2 separate regions of the Homo sapiens genome follow, and region 2 is linked to region 1. A link means that fine-mapping ties the variant in region 1 to the expression of a gene that starts in the linked region. Tissue or cell type: whole blood. Region 1 holds a variant in brackets; the other region holds the start of a gene. All regions are shown on one strand. Distances are between the middles of the regions.

What was found. PIP is the estimated chance that this variant, and not a neighbour inherited with it, causes the effect.
Region 2: ARHGAP1 starts here. The variant in region 1 is fine-mapped to the expression of ARHGAP1 in whole blood (INTERVAL, PIP 0.95).

Annotation. Positions count from the first base shown.
Region 1 is chr11:47,203,708-47,211,810 of GRCh38, reverse strand. No RefSeq gene overlaps it. Among named protein-coding and RNA genes, the nearest start is that of DDB2, 7.2 kb to the left of the region's middle. RefSeq lists a silencer at 1,919-2,098. The variant G/A (reference allele first, on the strand shown) is at 4,046.
Region 2 is chr11:46,697,180-46,705,282 of GRCh38, reverse strand. ARHGAP1 (Rho GTPase activating protein 1) reads left to right here and starts at 4,664. Exons shown (of 13, transcript NM_004308.5): 1 at 4,664-4,732. ZNF408 (zinc finger protein 408) reads right to left here and starts at 4,252. Exons shown (of 5, transcript NM_024741.3): 1 at 4,184-4,252; 2 at 3,607-3,884; 3 at 2,518-2,579; 4 at 2,040-2,299; 5 at 1-930. The coding sequence starts at 4,235. RefSeq lists an enhancer at 4,169-4,458 and a silencer at 4,789-4,908.

The DNA of each region.
Region 1 (8,103 bases):
GTCGGGAGTTCGAGACCTGCCTGACCAACATGGAGAAAACCCATCTCTAGTGAAAATACAAAATTAGCAGGGCATGGTGGCACATGCCTGTAATCCCAGCTACTCAGGAGCCTGAGGCAGGACAATCACTTGGACCCAGGAGGCGAAGGTTGCGGTGAGCCAAGATGGCGTGATAGCCCTCCAGCCTGGGCAACAAGAGCAAAACTCTGTCTCAAAAATAAATAAATAAATAAATAAATAAAAATTAAATAAGCTCTTGCAACGGAATGAATGCTCCAAAAGGGAAATTAGAAGGCCGGTTGCGGTGGCTCACGCCTATAATCCCAATAGGAGACCGAGGTGGGCAGATCACCTGAGGCCAGGAGTTTGAGACCCACCTGGCCAACATGGTGAAACCCCTCTCTATTAAAAATACAAAAATTAGCCAGGCATGGGGCACGTGCCGGTCATCCCAGCTACTCAGGAGGCTGAGGCATGAGAATCGCTTGAACCGGGAAGGCAGAGGTTGCAGTAAGCTGAGATCACGGCCAGGCGTGGTGGCTCACGCCTGTAATCCCAGCACTTTGGGAGGCCCAGGCGGGCAGATCACGAGGTCAGGAGATTGAGACCATCCTGGCTAACACGGTGAAACCCTGTCTCTACTAAAAATACAAAAAAAATTAGCCAGGCGTGGTGGCGGGCGCCTGTAGTCCCAGCTACTCGGGAGGCTGAGGCAGGAGAATGGCGTGAACTTGGGAGGCAGAGCTTACAGTGAGCCGAGATCGCGCCACTGCACTCCAGCCTGGGTGACAGAGTGAGACTCCGTCTCAAAAAAAAGAAAAAAAAACACAAAAAGGCTGAGATCACATCACTGCACTCCAGCCTGGACGACAGAGTAAGACTCTGTCTCAAAAAATAAAAAATTAAAAATTAAAAAAAAGAAATGGTTTTGCCTGGGAAAGGGGCAAGCTGGGAGCTTCTCCCCTGCTAGCCTAGAGCTGTGTTTTCAGAGCTGTGTTGCAGAAGCAAACTGTTCGCCCCCTCCCCTTATTCAGACCAACCAACATGCCAACTAAGACCAACCTGTCCTTCAGCAGGGTGCTCAGTTGCAGGGGATATTGAAGTGTAAGAAATGGACTTTGCCTCTAAAAGATTTACAACCTACTGGGAACTGAATAAAAATATATGTGAAACAAGTAAAATACTTCAAGGTAGGTACACATTTGAAGACTAAGTATGCTATGCCCACCAAGGTTTTTGGTTTTTGGTTTTATAGAGACAAGGTCTCACTATGTTGCCCAGACTGGCCTTGAACTCCTGGGCTCAAGCCATCCTCTAGCCTCAGCTTCCCAAATTGCTTTGATTACAGGCATGAACTACCATGCCTGGTCACCAATTAAGATTTTTGGATGCACTCAGGAAAGCTAATTCTATGGAGACAGTAGTACTGTTGTAACGACCCAAGGGGTTCACTTTGCCTGAGCCAACTCATCAAGACAGGGGAATTGCAACAGAGAAAGAGTAATTCACGCAGAGCCAGCTGTGCAGGATACCGGAGTTTTATTATTACTCAAGTCAGTTTCCCCAAGCATTGGGGGAGCAGAGTTTTTGTTGTTGGTGGTGGTGTTTTGGTTTTTTGTTTTGTTTTGTTCTGAGACGGAGTCTCGCTCTGCCACCTAGGCTGGAGTGTGGTGGCGCAATCTCAGCTCACTGCGGTCTCCACCTCCTGGGCTCAGGGAATTCTGCCTCAGCACCCAGAGTAGCTGGGATTACAGGCATGCGCCACCATGCCCAGCTAATTTTGTATTTTTAGTAGAGACGGGGTTTCACCATGTTGGCCAGGCTGGTCTCGAACTCCTGACCTCAGGTGATCCACCCGCCTCTGCCTCCCAAAGTGCTGGGATTACAGGCATGAGCCACCATGCCCAGTCGGGGAGCAGAGTTTTTAAGAATAACTTGGTGATTTGGGGGAAGCCAGTGAGCCAGGAGTGCTGACTGGTCAGGGATGAAATCATAGGCCGTCGATGTTGTCTTCTTGCTCTGAGTCAGTTCCTGGATGGGGGCCACAAGATCAGGTGAGCCAGTTTATCGACCTGGGTGGGGCCAGCTGATCCATCAAGTGCAGGGTCTGCAAAATATCTCAAGCACTGATCTTAGGAGCAGTTTAGGGAGGGTCAGAATCTTGTATCCTCCAGCTGCATGACTCCTAAACCATAATTATTTATAATCTTGCAGCTAATGTTAGTCCTACAGAGGCAACCTAGTCCCTAGGCAAGAAGGAAGATGGTCTGCTTTGGGAAAGGGCTGTTATCGTCTTTGTTTTATGTATTGTATGTATGTACGTATGTATTTATTTTCGAGACAGAGTCTCTCTCTGTTGCCTAGGCTGGAGTGCAGCGGTGCAATCTCTGCCTTCTGGGTTCAAGCAATTCTCCTGTCTCAGCCTCCCTGGTAGCTAGGACTACAGTCACACGCCACCATGCTCAGCTGATTTTTGTATTTTTAGTAGAAACGGGGTTTCACCATATTGGTCAGATTGGTCTCGAACTCCTGACCTCAAGTGATCCACCCACCTCGGCCTCTCAAAGTGCTGGGATTACAGGCATGAGCCACTGTGCCCAGCCATTGTCTTTGTTTCACTGTAAATTATAAATAAATTTCTCCCAAAGTTAGTTCAGCCTACGCCCAGGAATGAACAAGGACAGCTTGGAGGTTAAAAACAAGATGGAGTTGGTTAAGTTAGATCACTTTCACTGTATCAGTTATAATATTGCAAAGGTGGTTTCACTGTCTTTGGGAAGACCTCACAGGAGAGATGGAATTTTGTGCAGTTTGACTTGAAAAAAGTAGTGTTTGGCTGGGGAATGGAAAAGAGCCTCTTAGGCAAGGAACAGCTTGGTAACATTTGGGAACGGGTGTGAGTTCTGAGAAAGGAAATGAAGCCCTGGCATGTGGTAGTGGGCCTGGTACTATCAGCTAGGCCTTGATGTTCCACTGAAGTAAATAATTTCACAATACATGAACACCAGACAAGGCTACTCTGTGGCCATGATAAACCAAGAGAAAAACATCATCACAGCCGGGCATGGTGGCTCACGCCTATAATCCCAGGGAGGCCGAGGCAGGTGGGTCATGAGGTCAGCAGTTCAAGACTAGCCTGGCCAAGATGGTGAAACCCCGTCTCTACTAAAAACACAAAAATTAGCCAGGCACGGTGGCAGGTGCCTGTAATCCCAGCTACTCGGCAGGCTGAGGCAGGAGAATCGCTTGAACTCAGGGGCGGAGGTTGCAGTGAGCTGAAATCACACCACTGCACTCCAGCCTGGGCGACAGAGTAAGACTCCGTCTCAAAAAAAAAAACAAAAAACAAAACACAACACCATCATCACGGCCGGGCACAGTGGCTCATGCCTGTAATCCCAGCACTTTTGGAGGCTGAGGCGGGAAGATCATGAGGTCAGGAGTTCAAGGCCAGCCTGACCAACATGATGAAATCCCGTCTCTACTAAAATTACAAAATTTAGTTTGGCATGGTGGCATGCGCCTGTAATCCCAGCTACTCAGGAGGCTGAGGCAGGAGAATTGCTTGAACCCAGGACGCGGAGTTTGCAGTGAGCCAAGATTGCGCCATTGCACTCCAGCCTGGGCAACAGAGCAAGACTCCATCTCAAAAAAAAAAAATTAGCTGGGTGTGGTGGCGCATGCCTGTAATCCCAGCTACTTGGAGGCTGAGGCAGGAGAATCGCTTAAACCCAGGAGATGGAGGTTGCAATGAGCAAAGATCATGCCACTGCACTCCAGCCCAGGCAACAGAGTGAGACTCTGTCTCAAAAAAAAAAAAAGAAAAGAAAAAAGAAAGCAAAAATGACGTCCAGATGTTTAGCTACCTGGAAATACCATTTATTGAGATGAGGTAAACTGTGAAAGAGACAGAAAAAGAAGGAAAGATCAAGAGTTCACCTTTGGACACATTGGATTTGAGATGCTGATGAGATGTCTGGGAGGATTTGTCAAGAAGGCAGGGTCATGCACTATTCTGGACATCACCAATGAACCCGAGTCCCAG[G/A]AAAAGGTATAGGAACCCTGCTCCTCAGCCTTGCAATGGGAGCTCTGTGCCCAAGGTGAGGTTGGACCAGGGTGGAGAAGGGGGAGGATGGGAACTCATGCGTAAGTTGCGTCTGTGGTACACCTGGCATTCCGCTCAGCACTCTGTCACCATGGCCTCACAACAACCTGGCAGAGTAGGACTTACTCTTCCCGTTTTACAAAGGAGGAGACTGAAAATCAGAGAGGTGCTAAGATTTGCAGAGGGACACAGCTAAGAACTGGGAAAGTGAGGACCGGTTGGTAACACTGAGCACCACAGCAGAGACCAGGTGTATTCGTTTCCCAGGGTGGCTGTAACCAGTTACTGTAAATGAGTGGCTTCAAATGACAGAAATATATTCTCTCACAGTTCTGGAGGCCAGAAATCCAAAATTAAAGTGTTGGCAGGGCCACACTCCCCAGGCTCCGGGGTAAAATTTTTTTTTTTTTTTTTTTTGAGATGGAGTCTTGTTCTGTCATCTAGGCTGGAGTGCAGTGGCATGATCACAGCTGACTGAAGCCTCAAATTCAAGGGATCCTCCTTCTTCAGCGTCCCCAGTAGCTGAGAGTACAGGTATGCACTGCCATGCCTGGCTAATTTTTTTTTTTTTAGTTTTTGTAGAGATGTTAACCAGGATGGTCTTGAACTTCCTGGCCTCAAGTGATCCTCCAGCCTCAGCCTCCTAAAGTGCTGGGATTACAGGCATGAGCCACTGCACCAAGCCTCGAATCTTTCCTTGCCTTTCTCCTAGCTTTTGTGGCTGCCAGCAATCTTTAGCATCCCTTGGTTTACAGCCTGTCATTCCAATCTCTGCCTCCATTTTCCCAGGATCTTCTCCTCTGTGCATCTATTTCTCTGTATCTGACCTCCTTCTCCTTCGCTCTTTTGTTTGTTTTTAGAGATGGGGTCTCACTGTGTTGCCCAGGCTGGTCTCGAACTCCTGGGCTCAAGAGATCCTCCCACCTCAGCCTCCCAAGTAACTGGCAAAATAGGCATGGGCCACCACGCTGGCTTGCCTTACTCTTTTTGGTATGTGCTTCACTTTTTTTTTTTTTTTTTTTTTTTGAGACAAAGTCTTGCTCTGTCGCCCAGGTTGGAGTGCAGTGGTACGATCTTGGCTCACTGCAACCTCTGCTCCCTGGGTTCAAGCAATTCTTGTGCCTCAGCCTCCTGAGTGGCTGGGATTATAGGTGTGCACCACCATAACCAGCTAATTTTTGTATTTTTAGTAGAGACAGGGTTTCAGCATGTTAACCAGGCTGGTCTCGAACTCCTGGGGTCAAGTGATCCGCCTGCCTCAGCCTCCCAAAGTGCTGGGATTACAAGTGTGAGCCACCACACCTGGCCAATGTGCCTTACTCTTATTAGGACACTTGCCATTGGATTTAAGTCCTACCTGGATAATCCTGGATGATCACCTCACTTAAAAATTCCGAATTAGGTTAGGTGCAGTGCCTCAAGCCTGTGATCCCAGCACTTTGGGAAGCTGAGATGGGTAGATCTCTTGAGCCCAGGAATTGGAGACTGGCCTGGGCAACACAGTGACATACTGTCTCTACAAAAATATAAAAATTAGCTGGGTGTGATGGCATGTGGCCGTAGTTTTAGCTACTCAGGAGGCTGAGGTAGGAGGATCCATTGAGCTCAGAAGTTCAAGGTTGCAGTGAGCCATGTTCACGCCACTGCACTCCAGCCTGGGTGACAGATTGAGATCCTGTCTCAAACAAACCTTTTTTTTTTTTTTTTTTTTTTTGAGATGGAGTCTCGCTCTGTCCAGCCCAGGCTGGAGTGCAGTGGCGCAATCTCGGTTTACTGCAACCTCCAACTCCCGGGTTCCAGGAATTTTCCTGCCTCAGCCTCCCGAGTAGCTGGGTTACAGGCGCCCACCACCACACCCGGCTAATTTTTGTATTTTTAGTAGCAACAGGGTTTCATCATGTTGGGCAGACTGGCCTGGAACTCCTGACCTCAGGTGATCCCCCCACCTTGGCCTTCCAAAGTGCTGAGATTACAGGCATGAGCCACTGCACCTGCCAAAAACAAACCTTTAATTATATCCAAAAAGATCATTTTTCCACATAGAATAACATCCACAGGTTCTGGGGATTAGGATATGGACGTATCTTTTTAGGGACTACAGTCAACCCAGCTAGAGGAGCTAGAGGAGGCTGCAGCTGTTAGCCTTGGAAATCTTATAAAATGCTTCCTGAGCTTAAAAAGTAGGTAGCTTTTCCTACTTTTTCTTCATCCAGTTTCACAAATATGCCTCCTTGCAGGATGACCCAGCAGCTTAAATGCTGCCAACCCAAGTGTGGCTTGGTCTTCTAGACTGTGTATAATTATGACAAAACCCTCAGATTCTGAGTCCTTATGACACAGGGATAGTCAAGTATGAAGGGGAGGCCGGGCGCAGTGGCCCACGCCTGTAATCCCAGCACTTTGGGAGGCCGAGGCGGGTGGATCACTTGAGGTCGGGAGCCCGAGACCAGCCTGGCCAACATGGTGAAACCCCCTCTCTACTAAAAATACAAAATTACCTGGACGTGGTGGTGCATACTTGTAATCCCAGCTACTCAGGAGGCTGAGGCAGGAGAATTGCTTGAACCTGGGAGGCGGAGGTTGTGGTTGAGCCGAGATCGTGCCACTGCATTCCAGCCTGGGCAACAAGGGCAAAACTCTGTCTCAAAAAAAAAAAAAAGTCTTTGGGGATGTGCACTCACAATTTGGAGCACAGGGGAGGACGTGTGTGGATTTGTACAAAGACACCGCCCCACTGGGCCATGGGCTTCACCAACAAGAACCACAGCTACCCAGGTAGCTTGCCACCTTCCTCCCCATAGAGAAACTAAGCTGGGGTTTCTTGAGCAAGTTTTTTGTCATAGCGACAGGAGCCAACACAGGGCAGTGGAAAGGAGGGTGGAAAGAGGGAAATGTAAAGGAATGTAAATGTAGTTCTCCCAGCTCTGCTCACATGTGACTCATCCACCCATAGGGAACTAGCTTGGCTGTAACACAGACAGAATCATTTTTATTTCTGCCACTTGGGATTTTTGCCATCCTTGGAAGAGGGCTTTGGCATGAGAACAGTGAGAGGAAGGATCTACCAGAACTCAAAACCCTGGTTTCTGATTCTGGAGTTCCAGTTCTTTCTATGACGGTTTTCTAACCAGTGAGGACTTCTGAGAACAGCAAAGGGCTTCTTCACCATCATCATGAGACCTTATCAGTAACTAACATATCACCAGGAGATTATATCACAATGTCTGTTTGCAGAACACTTTACAGTTTACACATTTCACATATATTATTTCAGCACTCTGGCGATTGCTGTGCAAATCTGGCTGCCTAGAGAAGTTACCTGGCATTCTGTACATATGGTATTTTATGACATGATATTGATTTAGTGTGTGGATGGTGTCTCATCCCCCATATATAAAGACAGAGGTGAGGCTTGGGTTTGGTTTTTCTTTTTTTTTTTGGACAGGGTTTCTGTCACCCAGGCTGGAGTGTAGTAGTTCGATCTCAGCTCATTGGAGCCTCAACTTCCTGGGCATCGATCCTCCCACCTTAGCCTCCCAAGCAGTTGGAACTACAGGCGCAGACCACCACGCTGGGCTAATTTTTTTTTTTTTTTTTTTTGAGACAGCGCCTCACTCTGTCACCCAGGCTGGAGTGCAGTGGCGCGATCTCGGCTCACTGCAACCTCCGCCTCCTGGGTTCAAGCAATTCTCCTGCCTCAGCCTCCTGAGTAGCTGGGATTACTGGCACACCACCACGCCCGATTAATTGTTGTATTTTTAGTAGAGACAGGGTTTCACCATATTGGCCAGGCTGGTCTCGAACTCCTGACCTCAAGGGATCCACTCGTCTCGGCCTCCCAAAGTGCTGGGATTACAGCATGTGACACCATGCCCGCTTGAGGCTTGAGTGTGTGTGTGTGTGTTTTGTTTTGTTTTTTTGGTATTTATGAAGCTATTTGACACTTCCATCACTATCCAAATTTATATATATATGTATGTATAGTTGTTGTTTTTGTT
Region 2 (8,103 bases), 510 kb after region 1:
GTGGGCAGCGGTAAGGACGCTCCCCGGTGTGGAGCCGCAAATGCCCACGCAGGTTGCCCCGCTGACGAAACGCCCGGCCACAGTGCGGGCACAGGAAAGGCTTTTCTCCTGTATGGAGCCTCATATGGTTCCGCAGGGAGCCCTGGTTGGCCAGGGGCCGCCCACACACAGGGCATGGGCAAGGGGCAGGGGCAGCTGGCACCTGGTGGGTCTTGCGATGCAGCCGCAGGGAGGGCCGGCGGGCAAAGGCCTTGCCACACTGGTCACAAGCAAAGGGCCGGGCACCTGAATGTACCACCTGGTGCTCTTTGAGGTCTCGCTGGGTGCCATAGGCCTTGTCGCATTGTGGACAGGGGAAGGGCCGCACCCCACGGTGGCCCAGCATATGGGCTTTGAAGCTCTCCTCTGAGCTATAGCTCTTGCCACACTCAGTGCAAAGAAAGGGCTTGTGGCCCGTGTGCACAAATGCGTGCTTCTTTAGGTGGCACAGCTGTAGGAATGCCTTGCCACACTCTCCACACCGGTACCGTCGCCCCTGCTTTGGGGAGCTTCCTGCTGGGCCAGGAGGGCTCCGCGAGAGTGTAGGGAAGCCAGACTGCTGGGCTCCAGGCTCTGGGGTCTTTGCTCTGGGTGGGCACTGATCACTGGGGCTGTGTAACTTCTTGGCCAGGTAGCCATGCGGCTGGGTGCCCCTGGCAGAAGATGAGAAACTGGCTCCACTGCCATCTGGGTCCTGCTGGGTAGCCGAATTGCTCTGAAGTTCAGGTGGCATCTGTGCCTGGGCCGGGCATTCCTCATCCACGTCGCCATCCTGAAGCAATGGGCCAAGTGGCTGGCTATCCTTGGAAATTCGGTCCTGGGTTGGGAACTTAAGTCCAGGGCTCACCATATTCTCTGCCTGGATGCCAGAGGGTGACTGGGAACCAGGATCTGCAAGGCAAGGATGGGGTACTGGGTTTAGGGAGCTTCAATGCAGATGGTGTTACCAGGGAATTACAGGATCAGATGTTTTCTCCCACCCAGCCCCTGAGCCTTAGAGGGAGCAATGATACCAATCTCTTCCCTGGAGCATGGGGTGCACACTCCATTTATCTTCCTGTCCAGCCTTAAGCGCCTTTTGGAGAAGCACTCCTGAGAGCCATGGGGTCCCAGCCATCTGGATAATCACTAGAATAAGGCCATCCCAGATGGAGAATCCCCTTGTTCGCCCCTGGAGACACATATTTAGGATGTGATTCAAGACCCCTTCCAGCCGGGCACGGTGGCTCACACCTGTTAAGCCTAGCATCTTGGGAGGCAGAGACAGGCAGATCACTTGAGGCCAGGAGTTCGAGACCAGCCTGGCTGACATGGTGAAACCCCATCTCTACTAAAAATGCAAAAAAATTAGCTGAGGCTGAGGCAGGAGAATCACCTGAACCTGGGAGGCAGAGGTTGCAGCGAGCTGAGACCACGCCATTGCACTCCAGCCTGGGCGACAGAGTGAGACTCCATCTCAAAAAAAAAAAAAAACAACAACAACAACAACAACAACAACAAAACAAAACAAAACAAAAAAACCCCTTCCCACCTTAGCTCATCTGTAATATAAAAGAACCCCCACGCCAGAGAGAAGAAACATGGGAGGCTGGAAACCGTGTACATACAAAGCTTACTCTCTTTCTTACTATTCCAGGAAGCTCTTAGGAAGGTAAAAGTTGCAAATATCTATATTGTTATTCCAAAGAACAGACCCGTCGCTCTTCAACAGAAAGCAATGAATGACAATTCATAGTCTGAGACTGTCCCTTGCCTGAAAATTCTAGCCTTGCTGTATGTACCAACCCTAAGCTATTCAGTCATAATCCTTACCCAATACTAATCAAGCCCCACCCTCCTATCCCATGTTGAAAGATCCACCTTAAAACAGATTTTGAAAAGCTACTAAGACTCTATAGTGTCCTTCCTTACCGCAATGAGCCATAAACTCTGCTTTGTCTTATCAACAGGTTGTTTTGGTGGGGAAATTGCTGGGAAACCAGCATTTATTTGACACATACCTATGCAAGGTTCTGCTGCATCCTCCCCAGGGGAGGCCACTTCCTGCTGTACAGCAGACTCCACTTCTGTCACCACTGCTACAGCTGCCTCTTTGTCCAGCCCAGGCTGGGTGAGACTTGGGCCCTCAGAGGAAGGCTGGGGCCACAGCAGCAGTTCAGAGCCTGGCAGCACCAGCTGGTACACTTGCAGATGAAGCCTCTCGCTGATCCGCACTGGGGCCACATTTCCCTCACTCTCCAGCCTGCCCCGTTGTACCAAGCTGCAAAGCAAAGTAACAGCCAGCTAGGAGATGCTCACTATTCAAGTGGTCTTCCCCGAAAGCCCCAGTCCCCAAGCAGTCTGGGTCCTAAAGGACGCCGTGCCTTTGGAACATTCACTGCAAAAGAGCACTGAATAGGAAATGACAGTCAGCACCGGGTTCCATCCCAAACCACAACAGAAAACCTCAAAGGAACGACACACTCTCCTCTGACTTACCTAGTCCAGCCAGAACTCTGCTCACAGGCACACACGTCTCCCCATGGGCCTAATGACAGGTTCTGAAATAAACCAACAAAAGTCCTTCTCAAATGTGTTCGAGGGGTCGGGTAGGAATAAAAAAAGAAACTAGATGAAACTTTCCTGGGACAAATTTAAGATGAAACTCCTGGAAGGTTAGAAGCCTCTGGTTCTCCTCTAACAGGACAGTGCTGTCTGATTCTTCATTCAGTAAGGACCAAAAAGTCTGTCTCCTCACCTCCCTCCCAAGGGTATGGAGAATTACTAAATTGAACACATTACTGTCTTCCAGTGAGTACTAAACAGAAAAAGTAATAAGGAACACCAGCTTTTTAAAATGGTATTTATTGGGCCAGGCGCGGGGGCTCACACCTGTAATCTCAGCACTTTGGGAGGCCCAGGCAGGCGGATTACTTGAGGCCAGGAGTTTGAGACCAGCCTCACCAACATGGTGAAACCCTGTCTCTACTAAAAATACAAAAATTAGCTGGGTGTGGTGGTGCACATCTGTAATCCCAGCTACTCGGGAGGCTGAGGCATGAGAATCACTTGAACCTGGGAAGTGGAGGTTGCAATAAGGCGAGATCGTGCCACTGCACTCCAGCCTGGGCGACAAAGCAAGACTGTCTAAGAAAAAAGAAAAATAAATAAAATAAAATGGTACTTATTGTGCAGTGAAACCTTTTATCTTCACTATTTCATCAGCTCCTCCATATAATCCCAAGAGAGCCACTGCTTTGTTTCACAGATGAATTAAATGCGGCACGTAATTTAACCAGCTAGGTGACAAAGCTGGAATTTGATCCCATGCTTTCTTAATTCCAAAAACCTTAGCTCTTGACCTTCCTCACTCACTGCTGACACTGTATGATTCCAGCTTTCAACAACTTTTCAAACCTCGATTCTTTAACTACTGCTGCTGAGAGGAGACAGTCCTGAAGAGAAGGGACAAGACTATCTCCTATCTCTTGAAATACTCTCTTTCTTCAAATTGAAAAGCTGTCTAGCAATGTCCAAACCTCCCCTACATTTTCAAGGGCGGAGGGAAGTCGCTCTATCCTTCAATACCTCCTCCTGCCGTGGCTTTACTCCCTCGCCCTTCTCCTTGGAGGCAGACTCCTCTTCCAGCGGCCCCCACAGCAGGCCGGGCTGCAGGGGGTCCCCGACACACCAGACCCCCAAGCGCTGTTCCTTGGCGAGTGAGGGGCCAAGGGCCAAGCCCCGGGGAAGGCTCTTTAAAGCGAGGATGTCTCGGGTCGGCTCGGGTGGGACGTCTTTGAGGCCCTGCGTACAGCCTTCTCCGGAAGGGTTCCATCCTAAGTCCAGGCCCAGGCGCGGCTCGCGGGCTGCAGAGAGAAGGGAAGACAGTGAGGGAGCCACCCAAGAAGGTGGGAGGTGGGGAAAAGTGTGGGAGGAAACCGCAGGTCCAGGTGGGCCTGCGGAGCCCGAGGGACAGGTGAGGGCTCTAAGGAGGGCCCTGAAAGTTTTGAGGAGGCTCAAGGGCTCTTCAGAAGCCCCCAGCGACTCTGAGGGCACTGGAGGATCCTGGGATCCGGAGGAGAGAAGACTGAGGAGAAAGCTGACCACAGAGCGTCAGATCCACCTGGGCCAAGGTTGAGGGTCGCGGACATCGCAGGTCACTCACCGAGTTGCAGCGCCTTCTTCCCCTCCAAGAGCAGCTCCTCCGCCTCCTCCATTCCGGGTCAGAAAGCCTCCCTACGCCGGAAGTGAGCTTCCTCTTCTCAGCTCCTCCAGGAAACAGTCACGGACTTCCAAATTTTTTTCTCAGGAAAGAAGCCTCAGAGCTGGACCTCATTGGTGCACAGGACTGGGAGTTTGGGAGTACTGGGGAGGCAGAACTCTGTCCGAGAGCAATGCGAACCTCGGATTCCGGAGGTGCACCAGTGATTCGACTAGCTGGGAAAGCGGAACTAATTGTTCCAGCCATCTCTTTGGGAGCGACGAGTCGGACAGTTATGCTGTTACCTCCCCGAGGCAGGAACTTAGGCGGGCATGTGCAGGAAGTGGGCGGGGCTCCTGGAAAGGCCATGTTTGGGGCCGGAAGTGGGTTGGAGGTGTGGCGGAAATGGTTGGGGATAGAAGAGAGCGGGAGGGGGCGGTTCCCGTTCCACCGCGGAGCCGGATGTTTGCCGAGCCTTGACAGGCGTGGCAGAGGGAGCAGTGCCCGAGCGCGGTGAGCTGCTGGGCGCGGGGTCTCCCCGGGTGGGGATGGGGAAAGGAAAGGAGCTGGCCAGGTCGTCCGAAGGGATGGGGTCCGGATGGGGAGGACCGGAGCAGATCCGAGGAGGGGAACGGGGGTGGAACTGGGCTCAGAGGCCTGGCCTTCCTGCAGGGTTTCTGCCCCATTTTGGCGCCTGCAATAAGAGGACTTAATCATTTTCACTACCTTCTTCCTGCCTTCCCCAGGGCAGAGTCCAGGCCGGATCGCTGTCATCCAGCAAGCCGGCGGGAGGGGGAAATCTCCCAGATCTGATCTGGCAAAGCACTAAGAAGAAGAAATTTGGGGGAAGTGTTCCTCCTTGCCACTTATTAGGCCACGCTTTCAGTTCAACTTATTTATTTTTTTAAGACGGAGTTTCACTCTTATTGCCCAGGCTGGAGTCTCGGTTCACTGCAACCTCCGCCTCCCGGATTCAAGCGATTCTCCTGCCTCAGCCTCCTGAGTAGCTGGGATTACAGGCGTCCGCCACCACGCCCGGCTAATTTTTGTATTTTTAGTAGAGACAGGGTTTCACCATGTTGGCCAGGCTGGTCTCGAACTCCTGACCTCGTGATCCTCCCGCCCCCGCCTCCCAAAGTGCTGGGATTATAGACGTGAGCCACTGCGCCCGGCCTCAGTTCAACTTCTTAATCTGTGAAACAGGATAATTGCAAAACGTAACCTGGGCTTTGTAAACCGTGAAGCTCTATGCAAACATAATTGTAGTTGAGAGTTGTAATTGCTGTTGTATTGTGGTGGGATTTGCAACTGGGAGGCCGATTCCAACGTTGAGAATATGATTTCTTTTCTTTTTTTTTTTTTAGACGGAGTCTCACTCTGTCGCCCAGGCTGGAGTGCAGTGGCGTGATCTCGGCTCACTGCAACCTCCGCCTCCCGGGTTCAAGCGATTCTTCTGCCTCAGCCTCCCAGGTAGCTGGGAGTACAGGCGCGCGCCACCACACCCGGCTAATTTTTGTATTTTTAGTAGAGATGGGGTTTCACCATCTTGGCCAGGTTGGTCTCCAAATCCTGACCTTGTGATCCGCCCGCCTCGGCCTCCCAAAGTGCTGGGATTACAGCCGTGAACCACCGTGCCCGGCTGGTCCTCTCTTTCCTCACTGTAAAATGAGCTTAGTAGAACATGCCTCATCAGTGCTATCGTGAGGTTGAGTTTGTGTCCCCAGTTCATGGTCCTATATAGGCCCTCAACAAGTGTGGGTTCCCTTCTTTACTTAGGAGATGAATTAATTGGTTCATTCATTCAACAAATGATAGCATCTACTATATATCAGGTGTCATTCTGAATAGACCAGAAGTTCTTAAACAGTGATTCTCAGAAGGTGTATGAACCTCTTAAAATTGCATACATCTCCTAAGTTTTCTTAGGGAAAAAGTCCACACATGTTACCAATTTCAGAAAAGTCTACAACTTCCTAAAAGTGATTGCCTAAGGTGATCCTTAAGATTTTTGTAAAGGTTTACCTGCTGAGAATGGAAAAATTAATCTCAGAGTTGGGTGTATTTTGCACAGAGTAGAGCAGGCTTGTGGGTGGCTGGTGTCTTAAACAGGCAGGATACTTCATTTCTACTACTTGATGTTAGAATTTCCCTGTGCTAGCTTCCTCACCCTCCCACTGAATGGGAGTTTAACTTCCAGGCTCAGAAGTTAAACTGTGGGTTGGGGGTAGTGGGAGGGGCCAGTCTGACTGGGAGATGGGAACCACTGGGCTTAGTTATGCTGGGAAAGGAGGTTATGTGGGGGCGTTGAGGGAGGTCATGTCTGGAAGAACTGACAGCATAGAAGAGCAGTCACTGGAAAAGAGGTGAAGTTCAAGTTCAGCTCCCTTTTAGATGGTGTCCTTCTCCCTCCTTCACATCCACCCCAGCTCCCAGCTGCTCCTTTTTTTTTTTTTTTTGAAACAGAGTTTTGCTCTTTTGCCCAGGCTGGAGTGAAGTAGCTTGATCTCAGCTCACTGCAACCTCCACCCCCTGGGTTCAAGTGATTCTCCTGCCTCAGCCACCTGAGTAGCTGGGATTACAGGCACCCACCACCATGCCTGGCTATTTTTTTTTTTTGTACTTTTAGTAGAGATGGGGTTTCACCATGTTGGCAAGGCTGGTCTTGAACTCCTGACCTCTGGTGACCCACCCACCTTGGGCTCCCAAAGTGCTAGGATTACAGGCATGAGCCACCGTGCCCGGCCCCGGCTGCTCCTTCTAATCCTGTTGTTCACTGCAGCACAAAGTATTTCTGAACACTGGAGAATTATATTTCTGGGAGGCGCCATTGCCTCTACAGAGGAGGAAATTTAGGCCCAAGTAGGAAAAGGACTTGCTCAGCATCTTTGCAGCTCACTGGCTTAGGCAGGATGATAATCCAGCTCTCCATACTACCTCATCATTTCATGGCATCAGCACCTACTTTGTGCAGAAAGATGTCTCTGGGATAGCTGTAGGTGGGGCTGAAGGAGCCCCTGGTCCCTGGGCAGTGACAGGCTGAATAGAAAGGGTAGAGAGAAGGCTCTGGCCTGGAGGGGGTTGCTTTGAGCTGGATTCTGTCTTTATTACCCAGCTGGAGGTCGCTATGGGGAGCAGCTCCCACAGCCTCCTGGCTGGATGGCAGGAAGCACATGTAGATATTGAAGGGTTGAAGGGTTGAAGGGTTGAAGGCTGAAGGGGAGTGAGGGAGCTGGGCTTTGGCATCACTCAGAGAAATGCATTCCTGACCGTGAGGGATCATTCTTCTCTGTGTTCTTGGGAAGGGATTATATTTTGGTGGTAACCAGGGGTAGTGGATGAGGACAGGGGACAGGGAGAGGAAGAAGAGGGTTTTTTTGGGCTGTTTTCGCTGGTTGGCTTTGGCTTGGGAGCATGAAACAGCGTTACCACTCAATCCGTGTGGTTGCCCTGGTGATAGGGTGGCTGTTGCTAGGCACAGGGAGAGGGCTCACCATCCAGGGCCCTTGGCTGTGATGTGATGTGTGCAGGAGGTTGTCAAGTGGCCTCAGAGCCCAGAGTCTGTGGCTCTGGGATGGCAGCTCTCCCCCTCTTCTTCCTGCCCACCCCCAGGGCTTGTCTGCTCTCCTTATCTGCCCTGCTGATTCTCTGACCATATATGTCAGTTTTGGGGCTCCAGGAATGCAGCTGGACATGGAGCAGCCTCTTCCCTGGGGTTAGACTGAATAGGTTGAACTAAAAACTGCCCTCCCTCATGTGGGGAGCTTGTGGCAGGAGGGGGAGTTGCTGCCCATTAGGGCTGAGGGCAGAGGTGCCTACCCCCAGGCTGCATGCGGCTGCAGCCTTCTGGCCAGATTCCAGACCTACAGAAACCCAGCTTGGTGGTC